2 separate regions of the Homo sapiens genome follow, and region 2 is linked to region 1. The links come from fine-mapping of genetic effects on gene expression. Tissue or cell type: whole blood. Region 1 holds a variant in brackets; the other region holds the start of a gene. All regions are shown on one strand. Distances are between the middles of the regions. Region 1 has its middle 32 kb from the start of CLINT1. Region 2 holds the start of CLINT1 (clathrin interactor 1).

Region 1 (10,533 bases):
ACTCTACAATCCCAAATAGACTCTTTGGCAGCAGTGACTCTCCAAAACTGCCAAGGCCTAGACCTCCTCACTGCTGAGAAAGGAGGACTCTGCACCTTCTTAGGGGAAGAGTGTTGTTTTTACACTAACCAGTCAGGGATAATGCAAGATGCCACCCAGCGTTTACAGGAAAAGGCTTCTGAAATGAGACAACACCTTTCAAATTCTTACACCAACCTCTGGAGTTGGGCAACATGGCTTCTCCCCTTTCTAGGTCCCATGGCAGCCATCTTGCTGTTACTCGCCTTTGGACCCTGTATTTTTAACATCCTTGTTAAATTTGTTTCCTCTAGAATTGAGGCCATCAAGCTACAGATGGTCTTACCAATGGAACTCAAATGAGTTCAACTAATGACTTCTACCGAGGACCCCTGGACTGTTCCGCTGGCCCTTCCACTGGCCTAAAGAGTTCCCCTCTGGAGGACACTACAACTGCAGGGCCCCTTCTTTGCCCCTATCCAGCAGGAAGTAGCTAGAGCGGTCATTGGCCAAATTCCCAACAGCAGTTGGGTTGTCCTGTTTACAGGGGGGGATTGAGAGGTGACAACGTGTTAGCAGCCCTCACTCACTCTCAGCACCTCCTCGGCCTTGGCAGCCATGCTCGAGGAGCCCTTCAGCCCACCACTGCACTGTGGGAGCCCCTCTCTGGGCTGGCCGAGGCTGGAGCCGGCCCCCTCTGCTTGCGGGAAGGTGTGGAGGGAGAGGCGCGGGCGGGAACTGGGGCTGCGCGTGGTGCTTGCGGGCCAGTGAAAGTTCCAGGTGGGTGTGGGCTTGGCAGGCCCCGTACTCAGAGCGGTCAGCCAGCCCTGGGCAGTGAGGGGCTTAGCACCCAGGCCAGCAGCTGCGGAGGGGGCACCGGGTTCCCCCAGCACTGCCGGCCCACCTGTGCCACACTCGAATTCTTGCTGGGCCTCAGCCGCCTCCCCGTGGGGCAGGGCTTGGGACCTGCAGCCCGCCATGCCCGAGCCCCACTGTGGTGGGCTCCTGTGCGGCCCGAGCCTCCCTGATGGGCACTGCCCCCTGCTCCATGGCGCCTGGTACCATCGACAACCCAAGGGCTGAGGAATGCAGGTGCATGGCACGGGACTGGCAGGCAGCTCCACCCGTGGCCCCAGCGCGGGATCCACTAGGTGAAGCCAGCTGGGCTCCTGAGTTGGGTGGGGTCTTGGAGAACATTTATGTCTAGCTGGAGAATTGTAAATGCACCAGTCAGCACTCTGTGTCTAGCTCAAGGTTTGTAAATGCACCAATCAGTGCTCTATGTCTAGCTAATCTACTGGGGACTTGGAGAACTTTTATGTCTAGCTAGAGGATTGTAAATGCACCAATCAGCACTCTGTGTCTAGCTCAGGGATTGTAAATGCACCAATCAGCACCCTGTCAAAATGGACCAATCAGCTCTCTGTAAAACTGACCTATCAGCTCTCTGTAAAACAGACCAATCAGCTCTCTGTAAAATGGACCAATCAGCAGGATGTGGGTGGGGCCAGATAAGGGAATAAAAGCAGGCTGCCTAAGCCAGCAGTGGCAACCTGCCAGGGTCCCCTTCCACACTGTGGAAGCTTTGTTCTTTCACTCTTTGCAATAAATCTTGCTGCTGCTCAGTTTTTGGGTTTGTGCTGCCTTTGTGAGCTGTAACACTCACCACGAAGGTCTACAGCTTCACTCCTGAAGCCAGCGAGACCATGAACCCACTGGGAGGAATGAACAACTCTGGACGGGAGGAACGAACAACTCTAGACGTGCTGCCTTAAGAGCTGTAACACTCACCGTGAGAGCCCGCAGCTTCATTCTCGAAGTCAGTGAAACCAAGAACCCACCAATTCTGGACACACTAGGATTATAGGCGTGAACCTCTGCACCCAGCCCTACTTTTCTTTTAAGAGTTTTGTAGTTTTAGTTCTTACATTCAGTTCTTTGATCCATTTTGAACTAATATTTGTATATGCTATGAAGTAGGGACCCAACTCCATTCTTTTGCATGTAGGTAACCAGTTGTTCCTGCACCATTTGTTGAATAGACTATTCTTTTTCCAATGAATTATTTTGGTACTTGGTTAAAAATTAATTGATGATAACTCTCAGGAGTTATTCCTAATGTTAATAATGATCAGAATTTTTACTGGCTCCTGGTTTATATCAAGAACCTTTGCTCCTTTCCCTTTGAGCACGTCTGTTTCAGAGATCATTCCAGGATCTCAAATTTGTGATCTTGATTAACACAACAATGAACACCCTAAGGGGCCAGAAGGGCACTCCAAGTGTGATTAGATAAGGGTGTGTGGGTAAATAACTTTGTAAACTTTCCTAATTTATAACATGGGGATAATAAGAATACTTGGCTGGGCACAGTGGCTCACACCTGTAATCCCAGCACTTTGGGAGGCCGAGGTGGGAGGATCACCTGAGGTCAGGAGTTCAAGACCAGCCTGACCAATCTGATAAAACCCATCTCTACTAAAAATACTAAAATTAGCCGGGCATGGTGGCATGCACCTGTAATCTCAGCTACTTGGGAGGCTGAGACAGGAGAATCGCTTGAACCCGGGAGGCAGAGGTTGCAGTGAGCCGAGATCGTGCCATTGCACTCCAGCCTGGGCAACAAGCGTGAGACTCCCTCTCAAAAAAAAAAAAACAAAAAAAAACCGAAAACTTGCCCATAGGGTGGTTGTGGGGATTAAAGGAATTTAAAAAGTTGTCAATGGAACTATGCATTAGAGGGAATAATTGTAAAATGCTTTATAGATATAAAGAAGGCAAACATCAATGCTTTGGCAAGAGTTGGACTAGGATGTCAAAAGCAAGCTTTGCTGTGTGATTAATTAGCTGGGTAACCTTGTGTAATCACTGAAACTCTCCCAGTCTCAATTTCCTGGTCTATTTAATGTAGGTAATGATGTGAAGTCTAATGACCTTTCTGGGTTATTGTGAGATTGAAGCAATGTAGTAGGTGTAAAAGTGGTTTGGAACACTTAACTTGTTATTCTGGGCATTGTAAAGGATTCATAGAGAATTGCTTGCTTTCATTCTAAAAATTGCCTTTGAATTGTTTATAATGCCGGATTGATTCCTTCCATTGGGGCTAGCCCCAGGTAATGTTTACCACAATAAAACATTAACATGAGATTTTTCACCTCTTACCTGGGTAAGGACCAGAGCCTGATACTTGGCTCAAAGAAAGTATTTATACAGGGTTTAATAACAACCAGGCCCTCAGGGAATTCTCTATAAATAGTTTTGGTGCTGGGATAGAATGTGACCAGGAAGAATATTAACCATAGTCTTTCTTTTATTGGTCAGTTACAGTGTAGAGGAAGTATGTTAAAAAAACCCAAAATCTCAGATGACCTTATTCACATTGTGGTGGAGCTGGAAGACCACCTCTCCTCCTGTCCCAGGCAGTCATGGGGAGGAAGATGGTCTGCCCAAGGGAATCCTAATTTGAGGGGAAGAGGACAGTGAATCAAATAAACTAACCATAGTAGTCCATAGCACCTACTCCATTGTTGAAGAAGATACGTTGGCAAATTATGAAGTATTTAAAGACCTTTCTTGACATCCTTGTGGGTTGGTTAAGACGAAACTGCCTCTGACAATTAATGTTAATATTTGGGAGATGCAAATATGACTCAACAAGTATTGACAGGCCATGATAGAATAAAGATCTTTAACTGTCACCTACCATGTTAGAGAGACACCAAAGAGGACCAGACACCTGGAGTACCAACAATTCCCCCTGCCAATTTTCTCAGTGTTATTCTAGACTAACTCACACTTGGATATTTTTCCCCTGTGGGGAACACATTTCACCTGGTGGAGGAAGAGGGCTGGCATGGGGCAAGAAAATCCCTTGTGAAGAAGGGTGGAATTTTGCAGAGAGGAAGGCAGTGCTCTCATATAAGAATATGAGGATTGCTGGGTGCAGTGGATCATGCCTGCAATCTCAGCACTTCTGGAGGCCAAGGCGGGTGAATCACTTGAGGTCGGGAGTTCGAGACTAGCCTGACCAACATGAAGAAACCCTGTCTCTACTAAAAATATAAAATTAGCTGGGCGTGGGTGGTGCATGCCTCTAATCCCAGCTACTCAGGAGGCTGAGGCAGGAGAATCACTTGAACCTGGGAGGCGGAGGTTGCAGTGAGCCGCGATCACGCCATTGCACTTCAGCCTAGGCAACAAGAGTGAAACTCCGTCTCAAAAAAAAAAAATAAATAAAATAAAATAAAATAAAATAAATAAATAAATAAATAAATAAATAAAAGAATATGACGATCAAGAAATAAGGTTAAGATCTTAGGGCTCCCAAAAGGAAACTCCCCTTATGAAAGGTTTAAACTTTCAGGTGCTTTCCCTGTAAAGTTATACTTTCTATATAGTTTTAAAGTATTTCCCCATAGTCTGCAATTCCCCTTAGCTTCCTCCAACAACCTCTCAGTAAAATGTGATACACAGCTACTTACTAGCTGTGCCTCAGTTTCCAGTTTCCTTATCTGTAAATTGGAGATAATACCTTCTTCATAGTGTTAACAGTGGAGGGTCTTGACTACAAGTTGTCATCCAGGTTCTTGGCGTTTTGAACAAAGAATTGAACAAAATGCACAAACAAAACAATGAAAGAATGAAGCAATGGAAACACAGATTTATTGAAATGAAAGTACACTCCACTGAGTGGGAATAAGCAAGCAGCTCAAGAGCACTGGTTACAGAATTTTCTGGGGTTTAAATACCCTCTAGAGGTTTCCCACTGGTTACTTGGTTTACACCAATGTAAATGAAGTACTGGCCTGTGAGCAGTCTGATTGTTTGTGGAAGGTGACCAATCAGAAGCTGAATTGAAGTTACAAAGTTACACCCCTACGCAAATGAAGACTAGGCCTGCAACCAGTCTGATAGTCTGATTGGTTGCAGGAGGGGACCAGTCAGAGGTACTTTCAATTTTTCATCTGCAAGGCAGTGCAAAAGGAGTAGCCTTTGATCCTTTTGTTACTTGAGACTAGAAAGGTGGAGTTTTCCTTTTGATTCAGTTCTAGGAAGTCAGCTCAAATGGGCCTTAGGTTCCCTGCCTCCAGACCCTATTCTCCTGCCTAAACAGGGTTGTCTTGAGGATTTAATGAATTACTGCATGTTAAATGTGCTAATAAATGTGAGTTAAGTTAGAACACTCACCAGTGCCTGGCACAGAAAAGTGCTCAGTGTGTGCTAACTGTTGTTGCAGCTGTTAACCACAACACCTTCCCCTCTTCTTCCTCTTCAGGAAGGTCTTTCAGATATTGAGCTATCTTC[G/C]GGTATCTTCCTCAAGGCCTTTCAGATATTGAGAGAAGCCAGGGCCACTTCCATTTTTTGAGGCTACTTATAAGAAAAAATAAGGAAATTACAAAATAAGACTTCAAAATATTGTGGTATGCTTTAAAAACATTTACATAGGCCAGGCTCAGTGGCTCACGCCTGTTATCGCAGCACTTTGGAAGGCCGAGGTGGGCGGATCACAAGGTCAAGAGATTGAGACCACCCTGGCCAACATGGTGAAACCCCGTCTCTACTAAAAATACAAAAATTATCTGGGCATGGTGGCGCGTGCCTGTAGTCCCAGCTACTCAGGAGGCTGAGGCAGGAGAATTGCTTGAATCCGGGAGGCAGAGGTTGTAGTGAGCCGAGATCACGCCACTGCACTCCAGCCTGGTGACAGAGCAAGACTCTGTCTCAAAAAAAAAAAAAAAAAAATTACATATAGCAAATTAATACTTTGCAACACAAAAAGATACAAGGAATAAATAAAACTGTGCTATTTGCAGGGTATTTACACAGTGTACAAATTGCTTACTCTGAACACTGTAGCTCAGGGATTAGATACAACCTTAAAGCTAAACATCAACATCTTCCAGTTCTGTCAGCCTTTCTATCTTTGTATATAACCTCTTTTGGAAATAACTTTATTTTTTATTCATTTATTTATTTTTAATTTATTATTATTATTATTATTTTTGAGATAGAGTCTCACTCTGTCACCCAGGCTGGAGTACAGTGGCGCAATCTTGGCTCACTGCAACCTCCACCTCCTGAGTTCAAGCAATTCTCCTGCCTCAGCCTCCGGAGTAGCTGGGGTTACAGGTGTGCGCCACCATGCCCAGCTAATTTTCATATTTTTAGTAGAGACGGGGTTTCATCATATTAGCCAGGCTGGTCTTGAACTCCTGACCTCAAGTGATTTGCCTTCTCGGCCTCCCAAAGTGTTGGGATTACAGGCGTGAGCCACTGCACCCAATTTGGAAATAACTTTAAAGGGAACTTTTTAGTCTTTTCATGAATGAGATGCCAGATCTTTTTTTTTTTTTTTTTTTTTTTTTCTGAGACAGGGTCTCACTCTGTTGCCCAGGCTGGATTTCAGGGGTGCAGTCACAGCTCACCACAGCCTAGAACTCCTGGGCTTAAGGGATCCTCCCACCTCAGCCTCCTGAGTGGCTGGGACTACATGTGCATGCCACCCACCTCGACCTCCCAAAGTGCTGGGATTATAGGAGTGAGCCACTGCTTCTGGCCGAACTCTTTTGTACCCCTCCACACAGATTGATAAAGGGAAATCAGAGGCCCTGCTCCTCAGACCCGTCCACACCACCTTTGCAGAGGGAGGAGTGGCCAGAGAATAAGCAGCTTGAAGGGGCAGTGTCAAGATGATTCTGGAAGGGGCAAACTCTTTTCCTAATATTCATGAGGAAGATAAAAATCTGGAGGGTTAGAAATGCTGACATTCTAGTAGTTTGAGTAATGCCTGGTTGTAGAATATTGCAGGAGAGCTGAGCTTGAGTTTCCTGGGCTGAACCTTTCATTTTTATCTGTTTTGATGGAAATCTTTCTAAAATGGAGCTACTTCCCTGTATTATTAAAAAGAGCATAGTGAAAATGAAAAACAAAACCAAAGCATACTCTCCAAATGAAAATGATTGATATTCTATTTGAGATACCATGTGCATGTGAATCATGTCTGAGTAGTTTCATTTTATGTAGAGAAGCATCTAGAAACTCACAGCGGAAGATAAGGATGCACACATATTTTCCCGCTCTGTGCTTCCTTCACATTTTCACGTCAGTGTCATAACTCAAAATTTGTCATCGTGAGGATAGAGAAGCTTTGGTATTCATTGCTATAAAAACAAACTTGCAGAATAAATGTGACTATAAGCACTTCTGTTGGATGAGGGCCATTCTTAAATGGGGTTTTTTGTTTGTTTTTTGTTTTTGTTTTTTGTCTTTCAAAAATAAAGAGCACCGGCCGAGGCTCACACCTGTAATCCCAGGACTTTGGGAGGTTGAGGAGGGCAGATAGCTTGAACTCAGGAGTTCAAGACGAGCCTGGGCAACGTGGCGAAACCCGGTCTCTACAAAATATACCCCAAAAGATTAGCCAGTTGCAGTGGTGCATGCCTGTTATCCCAGCTATTCGGGAGGCTGAGGCACGAGAATCACTTGAATCTGGGAGGTGGAGTTTGCAGTGAGCCGAAAGGCTCACACCTGTGGACCCAGCTACTAGTTGGGAGGCTGAGGTGGGAGGATCGCTTGAGCCTGGCAGGCAGAGGTTGCAGTGAGTGGAGATCAGACTACTCCACTCCAACCTGGGTGATAGAATGAGACCCCTGCCTCAAATAAATAAATAAATAAATGAATAAATAAATAAATAAATAAATCAAGCACTAATAGAAGACAAGGCAAAGTAAGCTCCTAAAACAAACAAAGAAAACTAAAGGGTTTTTTCCAGATTGAGGCTCCCTCTTGACTCAAGGATCTGCCGCTATTTCATTCTTTTTTGGGCTCTAGATGCAGAAAGGGGTAAGGGAAAGGACATACACGTTATAGACCAAAATCCTGGGTGCTGGTCTATCTCAGGTCCTCACCAGCTTGTGGTTTTAGGCATCTGAGTCTTAGATTCCCTATATGTAAAATGTGGATGACCCATTTTTCCCCTGCTCCAGGAATGTTATAAAAATGAAATGCAATAGAGATTTTTAACTATAAATATAGACGGATAATGTTGCCTAGGGCCCGCCCTGGAACCTCGCTGGTTCTCTACAAAGGGTAACTTCTATTACTTGTTAGCCATGCTTTATTTCTAATTTTGCTCCTTTAGTACATTAGTCTTCCCTATTTTCATCTCAGTGGTTTTGCCTTTGCCCAAAGGGATGCATGACATAATCACCCATCTATCTGTCTGTTCATTTATTCATTAATTCATTTATAAACATTTTATTATGGAAAACTTTACATAAACATAAAAGTAGAGAGAATGGTATAACAGACCCCGAGGTACCCATCACCCTGACACAACCACTAACTCATTGCTGCTTTTATTTCACCTATACTCCCTCTGTCTCCTTCCCTACTGGATTAGTTTGAAATATATTCCTGACATCGAATCATCCACGTAAATGTATCAATATATATCTCTAAAAGATGACGACTGGTTTAAAAAACATAACTGCAATGCCATTATCAATCTAAAAATATCAATAATTCCTTAGTATTGTAAAACAATCCAGAATCAGTTAATGCTCAGATTTCCCAATTGCCTCATAGTGTATCTTTTTAAAAAGTATTTGTTTTGCCGGGCGCGGTTGCTCACGCCTGTAATCCTAGCACTTTGGGAGGCCGAGGCAGGCGGATCACCTGAGGTCGGGAGTTTGAGACCAGCCTGACCAATATGCAGAAACCCCATCTCTACTAAAAATACAAAAAAAGAATTATCCAGGCGTGGTGGCGCATGCCTGTAATCCCAGCTACTTGGGAGGCTGAGGCAGGAGAATCGCTTGAACCCGGGAGGCGGAGGTTGCAGTGAGCCGAGATCGCACCATTGCACTCCAGCCTGGGCAACAAGAGCAAAACTCTGTCTCAAAAAAAAGAAAAGAAAAGAAAAGAAAAAACACTTAGCTGGGCGTAGTGGCACATGCCTGTAATCCCAGCTATTTGGGAGGCTGAGGCAGGAGAATCGCTTGAACCTGGGAGGAGGAGGTTGTGGTGAGCTGAGATCACGCCATTGTACTCCAGCCTGGGCAACAAGTGTGAAACTCTGTCAAAAAAAAAAAAAGGTATTTGTTTTAATTGGGATTCATACAAGGCCCACATCTAGCATTTGGTTTATATAGTTCTTAAGTCTCTGGCAATCTACAGGCACCCTCCGATCTCTCTTTTCTTTTCTTTTCTTTTTTCTTTCTTTTTTTGTGGTTGTTGTTAGTTTCACCTCATCACCTAGGCTGGAGTGCAGTGGTGCCATCTTGGCTCACTGCAACCTCCACCTCCAGGGTTCAAGCGATTCTTTTGTCTCAGCCTCCAGAGTAGCTGGGATTACAGGCATGCATGACCAAGTCCAGCTAATTTTTGTATTTTTAGTAGAGACAGGGTTTCATGTTGGCCAGGCTGGTGTCGAATTCCTGGCCTCAAGTGATCCACCCGCCTCGGCCTCCCAAAGTGCTGGGATTACAGGTGTGAGCCACCATACCTGGCCCTTTTTTTTTTGTCCTTGCAATTTGCTTTTTATGGAAAAAGGTCAATTGTCAGCAAGAGTTTTCCAAATTCTGAATTTTGCTGATTGCATTCCCTTTGTGGTGTTTAACATGTTTTTCTCCCCTCTATATTCTCTGTAAACTGGTATTTAGTTCTGAATACTTGATTTGATTCACACTCTTGGTTTTGTTTATTTGTTTGTTTGTTTTGACGGAGTCTCATTCTGTTACCCAGGCTAGAGTGCTGTGGCACAATCTTGGCTCACTGCAACCTCCACCTCCCTAGTTCAAGTGATTCTCCCACCTCAGTCTCCCGAGCAGCTGGAATACCAGCGCCCGCCATTATGCCTGGCTAATTTTTGTATTTTTAGTAGAGACAGGGTTTCACCATGTTGGCCAGGCTGGTCTCGAACTCCTGACCTCATGATCCGCACACCTCAGCCTCCCAAAGTGCTGGGATTACAGGCATGATCCACCGCACCTGGCCTCACATTCTAGTTTTTGACAAGACTATTTTGTGGGTGGTGTTATGGGCTGAATTGTACCCCTGCAAAATTCATATGTTGAGGTTCTATCCCCAGTACCTTGGACTGTGACTGTATTTGAAGATGAGGTTTTTTAAGAGGTAATTTGATTAAAATGTAGTCATTAGGATAGGCCCTACTCCCATATGACTGGTGTCCTTTTCAGAAGAGGAAATCTGGCCACAGACAGTTACAAAGGGAAGGCCACATGAAGACACAGGGAGAAGATGACCGTCTGTAAGCCAAGGGCAGAGGCCTCAGAAGAAATCCACCCTGGCGATGCCTTGATCTTGGACTTTTAGCCTCCAGAACTGGAGAAAATGAATTTCTGTTGTTTAAGCCACCTAGTCTGTGGCACTGTGTTACAGCAGCCCTAGAAACTAGTACAGGTGGTGATGGGAATGTCCATTAGGAGGCACACAGTGTGGGATGTCTCTTTCTATGGTAATATTGGCTGCCATTGATCATTGTGTCCTAGATCC
Region 2 (10,533 bases), 32 kb before region 1:
AGCATATTTGTAGTGGCAAGGTTCTTGAAGGCAGGTATTGTATGTTTCGAGTTCAGAAAATAGAGTACTAGACCAGGCGCAATGGCTCCCGCCTGTAATCCCTGCGCTTCAGGATGCTGAGGCAGGCAGACTGCCTGAGCCCAGGAGTTCAAGACTAGCCTGGGCAACATAGCAAGAACCCTTCTCCACAAAAAAATTTTTTAAAATTAGCCACGCATGGAGGCGCAGCTGTGGTCCCAGCTGCAGTGTGCATGTTTGCATCACTGTGCTCCAGCCTGGACAACTGAGTGTGACCCTGTCTCAAAAATAAAAAATAAAAAGAAACCAGACTACTAATCCAATAAATAACAAATGTATTGCCTGTTAAAATAAATGAATATACTATTCTTTATAAAAGCAAAAGTTTCTCCCTCTGGAGTCAGGAGACTAGAACAGCAGTTTCTACAGCTCTATTACATTATCTAAACATTTAGGAACTAAAACCAAGCAAATATACATCAATAAAAATCAACTTATGAGGGAAAATGCAAGCTATGCTTAGGAGAATAACTTAAAATGGACTACCCATAGCTGTTGCCTTAGGACCTTAGCCAGAGCTGTTTGAATCACTATCAAAAAAAGGGCCACTGAGGCTGGGCAAGGTGGCTCATGCCTGTAATCCCAGCACTTTGGGAGGCCGAGGTGGGTGGATCACCTGAGGTCACAAGTTTGAGACCAGCCTGGCCAACACAGCAAAACCTCAGCTGTATGAAAAATACAAAAATTAGCCAGGCATGGAGGTAGACGCCTGTAATCCCAGCTACTCGGGAGGCTGAGGCAGGAGAATCATTTGAACCCGGGAGGTAGAGATTGCAGTGGGCTGAAATCACGCCATTGCACTTCAGCCTGGGGGATAAAGTGAACTGTCTCCGAAAAAAAAAAAAGGCGGGGGGGGGGGCGGGTCACTGATGAAAGAGATTTACCACTAATATTACTCCTTGCAAGGAAAGAGAAGGATTCGCTGAGCTTGAACAAATAAGTAGCAGTTTTGATCTACCACTACCATGTCACCTTCATTACATTCCTCAAATCTAGAGAGAAAATAGAACTGCAGCAACTTTCAATTTTACCATGTATAGGATGACAAAATATAAACATGTCCAATTTTATTACAGCCACAAGTAAAGATAGGTCATAGGATGACAATGATTAAGCTAGTGCTCCTAGTTGGTGGGAATGGTGCCACTTATCCTTTCCTGCCACATCGCCTTTTATGCAACTTGACGAGTGGGAAGATACTGGCATTCCAAGCTCTGGCAGGCCTATGGCTTTATCTGCTTCCCTCAGTTCCACAATGTTCTGCAAAACAAATCCCTCTACTGCCACCAGGAGGTGCAGCGATTGTGGAAAATATACCCCCACTTCCAGAAAAAGTCTTCAAGGTCTCAAAAGCCAGTGTTTGAAATACATCATTATCACTTTGAGTAGCTGAGATGGGTGGATCACCTGAGGTCAGGAGTTCAAGACCAGCCTGGCCAACATGGCGAAACCCCGTGTCTACTAAAAATACACAGATTAGCTGGGTGTGGTGGCAGGCACCTGTAATTCCAGCTACTAGGGAGGCTGAGGCAGGAGACTCGCTTGAACCCCAGAAGTGTAAGCTGCAGTGAGCTGAGATCTCGCCACTGCACTTCAGCCCCGGGAACAAGAGCGAAACCCCATCTCAAAAAAAAAAAAGAAATACATCATTACACTTAAGAGCCGCTACCATACTGAATCTAAGAGTGGCTCCAGGAAACACATTTTTCAGAGTACATTTCTTTTTCTGAAGTAAAACCTCACTGGGTATCAATATACACTAAAAGTCCTAGTCTTCCTGAGTCATGGTCTTATTTATTGCATAAAATATTTAAGTATAACATTTATTGATTACCACTTTTTAAGAAAATTTCCCTTTTCAGCCTAAATTGTCTACAGAGGATAATGGCTCCAAAATTTGTCTGCTATTGTAAAAACTAGTTCCAACTATTTTTCCTTGATGGAAATGCATTTCTCCAATAGCCATCAAAGGTGGAAAAAGTCTTACTCTAGCCAGGTCCCCTCATTTTACAGATAAGGAAGGCAAAGTCTGGAGATTCATGTGATTCTGCCTCAAATCATACATACAGCTAATTAAAAACGTAATGCCAGAATATGAACCAGATAGTTAAACCCCTAACCTTTCTCTCATAGAAGCCCTCATTCTATTGATCCATCTATCTGAATAGCCCTTAATCACGTCACTGCTTCTTCATTTGCAAGTTCCTTCATCATTTTATACCTCTGATAATCAGACCAACCATTCTATGGATGCACGTCTATTATGGCATTATAAGGTGCACAGTCTAACAGATCCACGGTTCTGTAAGATGCTTACATTTGGGGGGAAGAATTTCTTCTCTTCTTGCCAGTGAAAAGATGAAAATTAAAATCCCGAGTACTCATCAGTAAATCAACCTCATGTTCTAATCTTAATATGTGTCAGACACCCACAAAAGCCTTAAAAAGTCTTTGGTGACAACATTCTTCTATGTTCTTGAATAATTTGGTTCAAGTCTACATCCTAAATTGGGTAGTAAAAAGATAGATAATATTTTTCAACAATAGCTTTTCCTTTAGATAACTACTTACATGGCAAATTTAACCTAAAGCACGTGAAGATTAGTAACAAGTGTGATAAGCAAATATGAAAGGTACAACAATAGTAGGAATATTGCCTCGATTTCTGTCTTACGAACAATGTACAGCCTCTTCAAATTTTTGAGTACCACAAATTTGGTCCTCTAAGAGAACAAGGTGTTTCTTAATGGTTTTATTCTTCTGACCTCTGACTGAGAAATAAGGAGGCAGTGCCAGGCACGGTGATGCATGCCTGTAGTCCTGGCCACTTGGGAGGCTGAGGTGGGAGGATCACTTGAGCCCAGGAGTTGGAGGGTGCAGTGAGTTATGAACACACAAAAGAATGAGACCCCATCAAAAAAAAAAAAAAAAAAGGTAGCTTTTAGTCTTCTTTTGGCCTTTAAAAAACTATTTAAGTTGATATCCTAATCTTTACACAATATACTAAAAAAATGCCAATGAACCTAGATCTGGAAAAGATCTAGTTTATTTCATCTTCGGTAAGCAAAAGCAAAGAATATATAAATAGCTAAATAGTCCGAAATAAATAGCTGAAGCCTTAATAGCCAAATGAGTTGTTATAAAGGAAAATTATTAAAGCAAATCACTTTTCAAACTTGAAGCTTCTTTCTTAAAGAGGTTTATTTCACTCTAAATGCAAAACATTTGCTAGTTTCAAAAGTACACTAATATAAACATATTCTGTTAAGGGCTTTATATGCAATACAATCCCTTAACCCTTAAGCCTCACAACAACATTCTAAGGTAGGTATCGTTGCATTTTCATTTTGTACCAGAGAAAACTAGGGCACTGTGAGGATAAGTAACTTCCCCAAGGTTATAAAGCTTGAACCCAGCTTTGCAGGTTCTGAAACCTGTGCTCCTTAGGCACTCTATTGCCTTCTTGGTAGCACAGAAAATATAAAAATATGGTCAAGCTCTAAGTTCTATCTGATGTATCAGACAAGGCACTGGAAATTACTTTGTTTCCTGGTGTCAAGAAAACAGTTTGCTATCTATACTTCCTGATTTTAGGTTAGGTGGGTGGCACAAATCAACTGTTTTTCTCACCACACTTATTGCATAATCATTAAAGCCCCAAAGGAAGAGGACTGCTTAAATTCTTAAACTTTATTTCCTGCTGGCCTAGAAGACCTTACTTAACCACTGTTATACCTGATATACTCATTTTAAAAGTTAAGGTTTTCCTTGTGCAAGTAAGAGACTAAAGTTATTTCAGTCTTAAAGGAAATCAACTACGTACTGGTCGTTTTACCTGCTTTTAAAAGCAGATCAACAGGATATAAACCTGGGTTGTTTTTTTCCTTAAGAGGACATTTCTTAATGACCTCTTAATTTAATCGAATGGAACAAGTAGCACACCAAAAATGATGTGTAGTGGAAAAAGAAACAGAAGAAAAAATCGCAAGAAGTCATATAGTGATCTACTTTCACTAGTGTTAGAAAAGCAAAGGATGAGTGTCTTCTTGAGTAACTTCAGGCTGACCACAATAGCCACTTGTTACACTACTACCACCCACTCCAACACTTCAGGTTCATTAGGAATTAAGAGGAGGCAAGGAAGATAAAAGACACACCCCAACCAGGTCTAAGGTCTCTCCGTACTACACCTTGAGGGACACAGGGAACCAGTGCATTGTGCCCCCCACCCCCAAACCTTCCCTGCTCCCCAGGAGGCAAAGCCCACGGCCTGGGGCCAAGACAGTCCTCCGGCCAGGGCAGTGACCCAGCGCCAAACAACCCGCCCCTTATGACCAAAGCGTCGGCACCCAGGGGTTGGAATAGGGGAAGGGACGGGAAGGCCTGGAAAGGAGAGAAGGGTGGCCAAGAGGATGTTTTTTTTTAAAACGAGGGAGGGTCCCTCCCCAGCCTCGCCAGCGGGGATGAGGCCCGGGGCCGGGAAGGAGCGGGCCGCCGCCATGATGGGGCTGGCAGAGCCAGGGGGCGTGACGTGGGCAACCCCTAGCCCAAGGCCAGCTCCTTCTCCCCCTCCCCCCTCCCCCACGTGGGCCTCGGCCACAACTGCCCCCCGATACTCACGCTTTGTCCACCAGCTCGCGCACCTTCCACATGTTCAACATCGTGCCCCGCGCGGGACGGTCCGCCGCCTCCCTCTCCTGCTCCCCACGGACCCCGGAACACTTCCGTACCGGGGCAGTTCCAGGCCGGGGTCACCGCCGCCCGCCGCCTCGAACTCCCCCAGTCAGCTCCTTCCTTTGCCACAGCAGCGGCGCCGCCGGTGACACGTCGAGACGCGGCAGCACAGGCGCTGCGTGGAGCGGAAGTGTCCGACTTTCCGCCGCTGCGCGCGGGGCACGCCGGGACTTGTAGTTTTCCCTGAGTGCCGAGCTCGGCCGGTTGAGTTGGGAGAGCTGAGAGGTTGAGTTGGGAGAGCTGAGAGGAGTTGGGATGGTTTCTCTTAAGCTTTCCCAGTCCCCGGCCCCAGACCTACCGAGCCAGAAATTTTGGAGGTGGGGCCCAGCGATCTGTGCTTTTACAAATCCTCTAGGTGATTCTGATCACGCTCAAGTTTCAGAACCACTGGTGCAGGGTCTAGTCACACTCAAACACTTTTCAAATGTAAGGCAGTATTACTATGTTATTAGTAATGATTATACAGAAGTATGATTGGCATACGCATTCCTCATCGACAGACACATCGCTGTATTTATTTCCCAATGCCCAAGTACACTTAGATCTCTAGGCCTTAGTTTCCACCCCTGTAAAATTGAAGAACTTGTATTCTAAATCCTTTTCCGCTCTAATTCTATGATACAATGTTTTATATTTAGACAACTACCTGAAATCCTTGTTAAATGCTTTACTATAAACCTCAGAAACTCAGTTCACACTCCACGGGAAACTAAAAAGCCAACATTATATATACACGCACACATACACATACATATGACAGGTTTGTGTTTTTTAAGGATAAATATGCACATTGCTTCCATTGCTTTGTTGCAATGGTTGTCATCACTTCCTTCTCTACTTACTCATTTTTATCAATGCTCATGTTAAAGCTACAAGCAACCTTAAGTTTCATTTGATCCATCTGCTGAAATTTTACAGTTCTTTTCATTCTACAAATATTTATTGAGCATCTTGTATGTTCCAGAAGTGGGGAATATAGTTAAAGACCCAGCTCTCTTGGAATTCAAACGTAATTGGAAGAAACATATAATAATCAAGGAAACATTTAAGATAATTGCATATAGTGTAATTGCTTAGCGGGTTCTTTCTGCCCACTTTACAGATAAAGTCAATTCACTGCGACCAAGTCATTGCAGTGAAGAGTTTGACATGAGGCTGGCCATGCCACTTGAGAGACAGAGTTATTACTCAAATCAATCTTCCTGAACATTTGGAAGCTAGAGTTTTTCAAAGATAGTTTGGTGAGCAGAGGGTTAGGGCATGGGTGCTGCTGATTGGTTAGGGATGCAATCAGAGGAGTATGGAAAATGGTTCTCCTTTGCTGAATCGGCTTCTTGATGGAGGGCCAGCAGAGGAGTGGCTGGTCTGGGTGGGGTCATCCGTTTGTCAGAAATGCAAAAGCCTGAAAAGACGTCTTAAAAGGCCAATCTTAGGTTCTACAATAGTTCATTACAGGCCAGGCACAGTGGCTCACGCCTGTTATCCCAGCATTTTGGGAGGCTGGGAGGCCAAGGCAGGAGGATCACTTGAGCCCAGGAGTTTGAGACCAGCCTGGGCAGCAAAGTGAGATCCCCCTGCCAGCCCAGTCTTTAAAAAAAAAAAAAAAAAAAAAAAAAAAGCCAGGCGTTGGGGCACACTCTTGTGAGGCCAGCTACTTAGGAGGTTGAAATGGAAGGATCCCTCGAAAGGATCAAATAAAGACTCCAATTCACAAAGAAGTGAAATTGATGGTTGCTAGTCATGAAGCTAGGTAACAATAATCCCAAATAAACAACCTCGGACCCTGGTCCCTCAAGTGAAACCACCTCTTTTCTATTTTCTTTTTCTTTTTCTTTTTTTTTTTTTTTGAGCTGGAGGTCTCACTCTGTTGCCCCAGCTGATCTGAAACTCCTGGGCTCAAGCAATCCTCCCACCTCAGTCTCTCAAGTAGCTGAGACTACAGGAAACCCTCTCCAAGTTGCATTCACTTAATTACCGAAAGCAGCTTTGAAAAAAGTTTCAGTAAGGCTTTCGGATTGAGGCCCCAAGAGAAAGAAGCAAGGTTGAAGGAATTGACAGGCAGAAAATTACAACAAGCAGAAATCCAAAGTTATCTCAGAGCTTTGTAATGGTAGGAGTACTTGGGCTGATATGAAGTGAGTTGGAGAGGTGGGTGGGGAGAGGCAGGTAAAGATGAGCAGAGATGGGTAGAGGAATAGGGCTTTCAAATAAGAAGTTTGTGTTTTTTTGTTGAAAAGACTATCCAGCTCAAGATCCCAGAGATGGAATGTGGCCAGAGGAGATAAGAAAGAGAAACTACTTTGCATAAATAAGAGCTCAGCAAGTTAACTTTCAAACAAGTGAGTCCAGAGTACACCTGCAGAACGGGCCTGGCCCAGAAACAACCACCTTCCCTCCCCTGGGCCTGTTTGGGTGTTCACAGCAGGGCACTGTCAGCCTCTTTGCTCATTCCAAAACCAAGTTTGCATACGTCTAGACCCATCCTAGAGTTGTCACCTGTGACATTTGCACAGTCAGCTGGAGCCATCTGGAATGTAAAGCCAAAAAATCTGCCTGTCCGCTTCTAATTCAAGAGAGCCTTTAAAGGACTCAGAAAAATCAGACCCGGAGACTTTGTTAAAAAGTGATCTCCAGAGACTATTTGCATTTCAACAAAGTGTTCCATTTTTACCTTTTATCTTGCAAGTTCGAGAGCAGTTTCCATAGTAACTTCTTTGTGGCAATTCAAATATGTTCATGGTAGAAAAATAAATGAGAAAATGCTCCACCCACTCTTCTTCAGGAAAACATATATTTTTTACTAAATGAGCTGACACTTTTAGTAAGGCCAAACCAACACACGTTTTGAAGGAAAAAAAAAAAAAAAAGGCCGGATGTGGTGGCTCACGCCTGTAATCCCAGCACTTTGAGAGGCCAAGGTGGGTGGATCACCGGAGGTCGGGAGTTCGAGACCAGCCTGACCAATATGAAGAAACCCTGTCTCTACTAAAAATACAAAATTAGCTGGGCGTGGTGGCGCATGCCTGTAATCCCAGTTACTCGGGGGGCTGAGGCAGGAGAATCGCTTGAACCCGGGAGGTGGAGGTTGCAGTGAGCTGAGATCGCATACGAAACTCATCTCAAAAAAAATATATATATACATATATACTCAGTTATGTTAATGATGTGTGTTGTGAGAAGCAGTGTAGACAATGGACACTGACTGCTTATTTCATGCGGTCACCTCCCTAGAGTTCCCTTGGGGGAGTTTAATTCATGGTACATGGGTATGGCAGCCATGGAAAAGCACCATTCAGACCTACTTTCAAGAGAACCAGTTGCAAGGAGTGTGGTTGACTGACAGCTTCCTGCTGTCTTCCTCTGGGATCATTTATGCCAACGGCATACTCTCTGTAGGGCTATTCCCAGCAATGACTGAGAAAGGTGTGCTGGAGCCAGGCCATTTCTGCCCAGTGCTGGACTCCTTCACCGGGCAATCATTGACCTGGGCTTCCCATCGACTTGGCCCAGATTTCCTCAAAGCCTTGCTGCAATCAGATACTCTTCCTACCCAATCTTCCTTCCTTCCTTCTCTTCCTTGACAGGTGTCAGAACTTCCTTGTGGTCTCAGACCCTTACCACCTGCTCTTGCTCTCGCTTCCCTTTTTCCTTCATAGGCATTTCCCCTAATATATCTTATACTTCTAATTCCATCTTGGCTTCTGTTTCCTGTAGTACTCAAACTGACACAGCAGGTGAACATTTGCACCTTGGTTTCAGTATTTGGACTCACGAGTCTTGTTTTTGATCACACCTGACTGTTCATCTCCAGAGGTCAGAATATTGGTTTCTTTCTTTCTTTTTTTTTTTTTTTGAGATGGAGTCTCGCTCTGTCACCCAGGCTGGAGTGAAGTGGTGCAATCTTGGCTCACTGCAACCTCCGCCTCCTGGGTTCAAGCAATTCTCCTGTCTCAGCCTCCCGAGTAGCTGGGATTACAGGCATCTGCCACCAAGCCCAGCTAGTTTTTTGTATCTTTAGTAAAGACAGGGTTTCACCATGTTGGTCAGGCTGGTCTTGAACTCCTGACCTCAGGTGATCCACCCGCCTCGGCCTCCCAAAGTGCTGGGATTACAGGTGTGAGCCACTGCTCCTGGCCAGTTTTTTTTTTGTATTTTTAGTGGAGACAGGGTTTCACCATGTTGGCCAGGCTGGTCTTGAACTCCTGACCTCAGGTGGTCCACCTGCCTCGGCCTCCCAAAGTGCTGGGATTACAGGCGTGAGCCACTGCACCCAGCTGTAACCACATTTTCTATTAGGCATCCAAGGGAGAAGAGGAACTTTGGTCTTTCATCCACTGACTCTGACATCTCAAAAGATAACTCTGATTGGCCCAGTTTGGACCATATGCCTATCTTGGGTCCTATCACCTCTAGAGAGGCCTGCCTTACAGAATTTGTAGCCCTAGTAGAACCACATGGAGTGGGGAAAGAAGAAAGACTTCTCTGAAGGAACTCTGAAGAGAATCATGCCCTGGCAGACAAAAGCAAGAGTTGTTTACAACTGTTAAATGTAAGGTGGGGTCTGGGAATTGTACTTTGAAAAAACATTCTAAGTGATTTTGCTGGGGTTTGTGATGCCCTGGGCTAGATGACACAGGTCCTTCTCAGCTCTTGGAATTCCACAAAAGTAGCTGGGTTGGGAAGAACAAAATAGAGAAGACTATCATAGGGGAGGCCTGGCACGGTGCCTCATGCCTGTAATCCCAGCACTTTGGGAGGCTGAGGCGGGCAGATCGCCTGAGGTCAGGAGTTCGAGACCAGCCTGAGCAACATGGTGAAACCCTGTCTCTACTAAAAATATAAAAATTAGCAGGGCATGGTGGCACATGCCTGTAGTCCCAGCTACTCGGGAGACCGCGGCAAGAGAATCACTTGAACCCAGGAGGCAGACGTTGCAGTGAGGCAAGATCGTGCCATTGCACTCCAGCCTAAGCAACAGAGTAAGACTCTGTCTCAAAAAAAAAAAAAAAAAGAAAGAAAGAGAGAAAGAACAAAAGAAAAAACTATAATAGGGAACAGCATAAAAGAAAAGGAAGCAATGCAGAAGGAAGGAGTTAAGTGGTCTGAGGCTGCTGTGATGCTGAGGCTGCGGTGGCGCTGCTGGCATTCTGCAGCAGGTAGACTGATGGCGGGGCATGCCTTCCTTCCTGTTCTGCCGACAGTTGGGCTCTTCTTGGCTGACATTCAGTCCCCTTTCAGGGCTGTCAGTGGGGCTCTCAGGTGGGCCTATTCAGAAAGCTTGATAGGTGCTCTAAAGGGCTAACATATTTGCATTCCTTCTGTGAGAATGGGCATGCTCCAGCAGGAGGAGAGATAGAGGCAAAAATGCTCTTAGAATCATTTCCCTGCCTCCTGGGATGCTCTGTCTTCTCTCTCCTGAAACAGGCGAGCCTGGAGTGGATGTACTGTTCCTAGAGTCTAGACCTCTGAAAATGCCACTCACAGGAAAGTGTCATCAGTGAAGCAACGAGGCCACTTGTGACTGTGGGAATTTATCCTGCATGGTCAAGTCAGAGTCAGGGGTGAGTGGGGTGGATGTCAGAAAGGATGGGCTGGCTGGTTTTTGAGGCAGGGTCCTTCTGGACAAGGTCAGAAAGCTCCTATGCGTCCAGAGTTCACACTGAAGCTCCAACAGAACCTGAACTCTATCAGTTCATCAAAAGAATTGTGCTCTAGGCCCGG

The links.
Region 2: it holds the start of CLINT1, and the variant in region 1 is fine-mapped to the expression of CLINT1 in whole blood (TOPMed, PIP above 0.99).

What each region holds. Positions count from the first base shown.
Region 1 is chr5:157,886,120-157,896,652 of GRCh38, forward strand. No RefSeq gene overlaps it. Among named protein-coding and RNA genes, the nearest start is that of CLINT1, 32 kb to the left of the region's middle. The variant G/C (reference allele first, on the strand shown) is at 5,323.
Region 2 is chr5:157,854,232-157,864,764 of GRCh38, forward strand. CLINT1 (clathrin interactor 1) reads right to left here and starts at 4,914. Exons shown (of 12, transcript NM_014666.4): 1 at 4,699-4,914. The coding sequence starts at 4,739. RefSeq lists enhancers at 4,544-5,125, 4,963-5,202.